Linked DNA regions of Homo sapiens. The protein of the gene in region 1 interacts with the protein of each later gene in a biochemical or structural test. Each region holds a gene or a part of one and is shown in the gene's direction. Other genes may lie near its edges.

The links.
Region 2: the proteins of ANXA7 (region 1) and PAX8 form a complex in vitro, tested with the Homo sapiens proteins (one large-scale study listed by BioGRID).

Annotation. Positions count from the first base shown.
Region 1 is NC_000010.11:73,407,233-73,411,350, reverse strand, and holds part of ANXA7 (annexin A7), read left to right. Parts: intron 1-3,032; exon of another isoform or gene 3,033-3,175; intron 3,176-4,118. UniProt on the Homo sapiens protein: Calcium/phospholipid-binding protein which promotes membrane fusion and is involved in exocytosis.
Region 2 is NC_000002.12:113,215,189-113,217,709, reverse strand, and holds the end of PAX8 (paired box protein Pax-8), read left to right. Parts: 3' UTR 1-1,713; downstream 1,714-2,521. UniProt on the Homo sapiens protein: Transcription factor for the thyroid-specific expression of the genes exclusively expressed in the thyroid cell type, maintaining the functional differentiation of such cells.

The DNA of each region.
Region 1 (4,118 bases):
ACATTGTACCTAATGTGTAGTTTTTGATTCCTAGCCCCCTTTCACCCTCCCCTTTCTGAGTCTCTAAAGTCCATTATATCACTTCATACCTATGTCTTTGCATACTCATAGCTTAGCTTCCACTTACACAGTGAGAACATACGGCTTTTGGTTTTCCACCCCTGTATTACTTCACTTAGAAAAATGGCCTCCAGCTTCATCCAAGTTGCTGCAAAAGACATTATTTTGTTCCTTTTAATGGCTGAGTAGTATTCCATGGTTTATATATACCACATTTTCTTTATCCACTCAGTTGATGGGCACTTAGATTGGTTCCACATCTTTGCAGTTGTGAGTTGTGCTGCTATAAATATACATGTGCAAAAGTCTTTTTCATATAATGACTTTCTTTCCTTTGGGTAGATACCCAGCAGTGGAATTTCTGGATTGAATGGTAGATCTTTTTTAGCTCTTCAAGGAGTCTCCATACTGTTTTCTGTAGAGGCTGTATAGTAGTGTAATAAGCGGTCTCTTTTCCCCACATCCACACCAACATCTATTGTTTTTTGACTTTTTTTTTTTTTTTTTTTGAGATGGAGTCTCGCTCTCGTTGCCAGGCTGGAGTGCAATGGCGTGATCTCAGCTCACCCCAACCTCCGCCTCCCGGATTCAAGCAATTCTCCTGACTCAGCCTCCCAAGTAGCTGGGATTACAGTCACACGCCACCATGCCCAGCTAATTTTGTTATTTTTGGTAGAGACGGGTTTCTCCATGTTGGTCAGGCTGGTTTCAAACTCCCAACCTCAGGTGATCGCCCGTCTGGGCCTCCCAAAGTGCTGGGATTACAGATGGGGGCTACCGCGCCCGGCCCATTTTTTGACTTTTTAAGAATAACCATTCCTGTAGGAGCACGGTGGTATCTCATTGTGGTTAATTTGCATTTCCCTGATGATTAATGATGTTGAATTATTAATGATTATTTCATGTTTTTTGGCCATTTGTGTATCTTTTGAGAAATGTCTATTCATGTCCTTTGCTCAGTTTTTAATGCAATTGTTTTTTTTTCTTTGTGATTTGAGTTCCTTGTAGATTCTGGATACTAGTCCTTTGTTGGATGCATAGTTTGCAAATATTTTCTCCCATTCTGTGGGTGGTCTGTTTACTCTGTTGATTATTTGTTTTGCTGTGCCGAAGCTTTTTAGTTTAATTAGGTCCCATCTATTTATTTTTGTTTTTGTTGCGTTTGTTTTTGGGGTCTTAGTCATGAATTTTTTGCCTAGGCCAGTGTTTAGAAGACTGTTTCCAATGTTCTAGAATTTTTATAGTTTCAGGTCTTATATTTAAATCTTTTATCAACTTGAGTTGATTTTTGCATTGGATGATAGTTAGGGATCCAGTTTCATTCTTCATGTGGCTTGCCAGTTTTCCCAGCATCATTTATTGAATAGGATGTCCATTCCCCAATTTTTGTTTTTGTGTGCTTTGTCAAAGAGCAGTTGGCTGTATGTATTTGGCTTTATTTCTGAGTTCTCTATTTTGTTCCATTGGTCTATGTGCCTACTTTTAAACCAGTACCATGCTGTTGTGGTAGCTATAGGCTTGTAGTGTATTTGAAGTCTGGTAATGTGATGTCTCCAGATTTGTCTTTTTGCTTAGAATTGCTTTGGCTATTCAGGCTGTTTTTTGTTCCATATTAATTTTAGGATTGTTTTTTCTAATTCTGTGAAAAATGATCTTGGTATTTTGATGGGAATCGCATTGAATCTGTAGATTGCTTTGGGCAGTATGGTCATTTTCACAATATTGATTCTTTCAATCCATGAGCATGGGATGAGTTTCCATTTATGTCATCTGTGATTTCTTTCAGCAGTATTTTGTAGTTCTCCTTGTAGAGATCTGTCATCTCCTTGGTGAAGCATATTCCTAGGTATTCTATTTATTTTTTATTTTTGCAGCTATTATAAAAGGGATTGAGCTCTTGATTTGATTCTCAGCTTGGACGTTTTTGGTATATAGCAGTGCTACTGATTTGTGTACATTGATTTTGTAACCTGAGACTTTACCGATTTCATTTATCAAATCTAAGAGTCTGTTGGAGTCTTTAGGATTTCCTTGGTATATAGTCATAATATCTGCAAACAGTGATAGTTTGACTTCCTCTTTTCCAATTTGGATACACTTTATTGCTTTCCCCTACTTTCCCTCTGGCTAATACTTCCAGAACTATGTCGAATAGGAGTGGTGAAAGTGGATGTCCTTGTCTTGTTCCTGTTCTCAGGGGGAATGCTTTCAACTTTTCCCCATTCAGTATGATGTTGGCTTTGTCGTCATATATGGCTTTTATTATTTTGAGTTAGGTCCTTTCTATGCCTCATTTGTTGAGTTCTTTATTGTAAAGGATGCTGGATTTTGTTGAATGCTTTTTCTGCATCTGTTGAGATCATATGGTTTTTGTTTTTAATTCTGTTTATGTGATACATCACATTTATTGACTTGCATATGTTAAATCATTCCAGCATCCCTGGGATGACACCTGTCCCTTATTGATGGACATTCACATGGTTTTTAACCTTTTCCTATTACAAAAATGCTGCAGTGAATAGCCTTGTACATATATAATTTTGTCCTTGTGCAAGTATTTCTATAAGGTACATTCCTGGAAATGGAATTGCATTCTAGTCTTTTATATAATTATTTTTCAAAATGTACCAAAATTCACTTTCTTAAAATAGCTTTAATTTTTATTATATACAGATAATCTTTGCCTTATTTTCATTTTTGTTGACATAATTCCTCCAGGCTCTTAAAGGTAAGATTTAAGATAGTAGCTAAAGAATTTAGATATAGGTCTTGTCACTGGAACAATTTCTTGAAACTTAGAAATTTAAATTGCTTATGATGTCTTTGGTACTGTAACTGCATATTGCCTTTCAAATTACTATTAATTTATCTCATAAATTATTTTCAGATTTTTTTTTCCTTTATTTTGACCCTGACCCTTTTGCCCTTGGTCTATCTACTTTTCTTTTTCTTTCTTTTTTTTTTTCTTTTTCCTTGTCTTGTCTTGTCTTTTCTTTCAACTGGAGTGCAATGATGCAAACACGACTCACTGCCGCCTTGACCTCCTGGCCTCAAGCAATTCTCCCACCTCAGCTTCCTGAATAGTTTGGACTACAGGTGGGCGCCGCTGCACTGGGTAATTTTTAAAATATTTTTGTAGGGACGAGGTCTTACTATGTTGCCCAGCATGGTCTTTAACTCCTTGGCTCAAGCAGTCCTCCCACCTTGGCCTCCCAGAGTTTTGGGATTATAGGTGTGAGCCACTGCGCCTGGCCTATCTGACCATTCTTTAGAGCTTTTGCCCCTCCTTTACTCTTTATACAAACCCAGGCTTAGAAAAGAAAAAAGCAAAAAAATTCAGCCTGTCCCTGTTTTTATATCCAGCCCTTTGGGATCCCAAATGATTATTTTATAATTGACTGGGTCAGTTTTCATATCATTTTATGTTTCTTATTGACTTATAGCCTTGATTCAATCTATGTCCGTTTATTCTCAATTCAGCACATTTTTAGCTTCTATCCTGTGTTCCTGTCATAAGGGACACTATATTATCTCATTTTCCTATACTGTGTACTCAAATGGCTGAATACTTAATCTTTCTATCAGCACCTAGGACAGTGCTCATTACACAGTGGACTTTCATAAATGTTGACTTGAGTTGGGTTTATTTGGCATCTGATATAAAAGAAATATGAATCATTTACAGCTGTATTGATGAAAAGTGCCAAAACATATATTTACAAATTTAGAAAATTAGGTGTAGATCCAGAAATCCCAAAGTATTCTGGTATCAGAGTGTGAATCACAGACCTGCAGAATCCATATCACCTGAAAGCTTTAGAAATGCAGAATCTCAGGCCCCATCCTGGAGCTACTGAATTAAAATCTCTATTTTAACACGATCCCTAGGGATTCATATACACATTAAAGTTTGAGGCCAGGTACAGTGGCTCACGCCTGTAATCCCAGCACTTTGGGAGGCTGAGGCAGGCAGATCACTTGGGGTCAGGAGTTTGTGACCAGCCTGGCCAACATGGTGAAACTCCGTCTCCATTAAAAATGCAAAAATTAAGCAGGTG
Region 2 (2,521 bases), on another chromosome or scaffold:
AGGCAGAATCGCAGGAAACCCGCTTCCCCTTCCTGACAGCTCCTGCCAAGCCAAATGTGCTTCCTGCAGCTCACGCCCACCAGCTACTGAAGGGACCCAAGGCACCCCCTGAAGCCAGCGATAGAGGGTCCCTCTCTGCTCCCCAGCAGCTCCTGCCCCCAAGGCCTGACTGTATATACTGTAAATGAAACTTTGTTTGGGTCAAGCTTCCTTCTTTCTAACCCCCAGACTTTGGCCTCTGAGTGAAATGTCTCTCTTTGCCCTGTGGGGCTTCTCTCCTTGATGCTTCTTTCTTTTTTTAAAGACAACCTGCCATTACCACATGACTCAATAAACCATTGCTCTTCATCTCAGGCTTTGGGGTTGGCTGGGGAAGGAGGCATCCCGGGGCTGGGCTTTCTCCCAAGAACATCAGAGCTGAGTAGCCGACAAACTCACTTTGGGGCCGTGGGCTGGAAGGGACCATCTGATGCCCCAGAGCTCTGGCTTGGCCTTCTCCCTCTGCCTTTAATTCACGTTGAACGCTGGGTACCTCACTCATCCCAAGTTCTTCAACACTGAGCAAATGCAAGGATAGCACAGTACTGAGCCAACCATAGACTCCCCACAAGGAGTTGCTGTTGTTATTAACAGGAAGCCAGAGAATCAGCAGGGTGGGTTAGTGAGGGATCCGGGAATAGCTGTGACTGGAGCCTGCATAAACAGCTCTGAAGGGAGAGAGAAGACTGGGCTCTCTTGTGTGCCAGGCACAGTATGGAAGGCTTCATATAAGTTAAGCTGAAATTAGCCCTGTTTTACATACAGCTTCATTTTACATATGAGGAAACTGAGGCTTTGAAAAAAATGAGATGTCTTGTCCAAGATGAAAAGTAGTAGATTCAACCAAGTCCTCTTACTCTAAGCCCAACGCTTTTACCCAAAACCCCAGAGTCCTCATCAGGGATGCCAAATGGTTCTAGACCCAGTGGAGGTTCTGGAGCTGCCACTGGGGATTTAATTTCTTTTGATTTGCTAAAGATTTGACCTGACTGAATGGAGAGGTAGAGTGTAGTGTGGCCAGGACAAGGTGAGGGAGGCTGTAGAGACTTAGCACTTTAGGCCAACCACCTCCAGGAAATCTGGGAAATGCAATGTGACAGCTCGGGCTCTGCACTCCAGGGGGCTGTCTGGTGTCCACATGGACCTTCTCCATGTGGGACACAGCTGGAACAAGGGGGCAGGGGCCTGCAGCTGGGATGCCCAGGTGAATATGGGCAGCTGGACAAACAACACTGGGATTGAGTCAGATAGAAGGGGCCCAAGGACTCCAGGGCTGGGAGGACAGAGGCTGGGAGAGAGGGCTCTTACCTCCTTAGGCCTCCCAAAGAGCGGTTAGGGATGCTGCCATGGATGGCATGGCAGGGGGAACCCTCCTGGAAGAAAATCCATCTCTTCTGAAGGGATCTGAGATGCGGCTGGTTTTTCAATGGCAGAACTTCCCTCTGCAGCGCGACTCCGAATCCATGACATCTGAGAGTCTTCCTGACCACAAACCTCTGGGATCCCGAGGGCTCCCTACCCAAGAATCACTTTGAGCACAGCATCCCAAGGAGCCCATAGAGCGATCCCTTGCATTCACAGCCACAGCCCCTCTGGGGACACTCTGTACCCCCGGCAGACCCTTTCCAACTCACAACCAATAAAGGGGCTTGGGCTGTGCTTTGACTAAGGTGACCATGGTTTAAAACTCGCCTTTCTTTCCCGGAGGTGAGCTGGGCTTGCCAGGAGCCTCTGCTCAGAGCGGGTGTTTGTTGACTGTGGGATGTGTTCCCCATGTAACAGGCCTTGGCTAGTACCCATCCAATATTCTGCCCATGGTCAAACCATGGGTCCCCTTTTCGGGCTCAGAAAATAAGGCCATTTATGTATCGGGCGAAAGAAAGACAATTCGACGTGCCCCGGCATTTGGGGTGGTGTTGGGAGGAGTCAGGCTGGCACATGGGGGGACGCAATGAAGAAAGGTGGGATGGCAAGGACAGGGAGGACACGCAGGGGGCTTTGAGGGTTGGCCGAGGGGCCACTTTCACCTGGGGTAGGGAGGGCGGCTTCTGTGAGTGGTCGCAGGTGAAGGGGGGTCGCTTTATGGTGCAGGGGAGCCAGGGGTTCTCTGGGGGTGGTATGTGTGTTTGTAGGAGAATTGGGGATGAGGATGGGCCCAAAACATTGCTGAGGCATTGAGAGCACTGAGGGCCTATCCCTTCCCCCTGGAATAATCCCTTTCACTGCTCATGTAGAGAGACCACCTGAGCTTCCCAGGCAGTTTACTCTTAACTTCTCCCTGGTCCATTACCCTCACTCCTCTTCATCCTCAGGTTCTAGCACAGGCCAGGCCAGCCCAGGGTGCTAGGAGCTTGCAGGAAATTCATGTGGACCAACCAACTCTGGCAGGTCAGTGGGTTTCTTGCTGGGAAAGGGGGCAGCTGGAACCCTGCCTGGGGCCCACCAGATGAACAGAATTGCTGTGACCCCGTAACCTCTACCA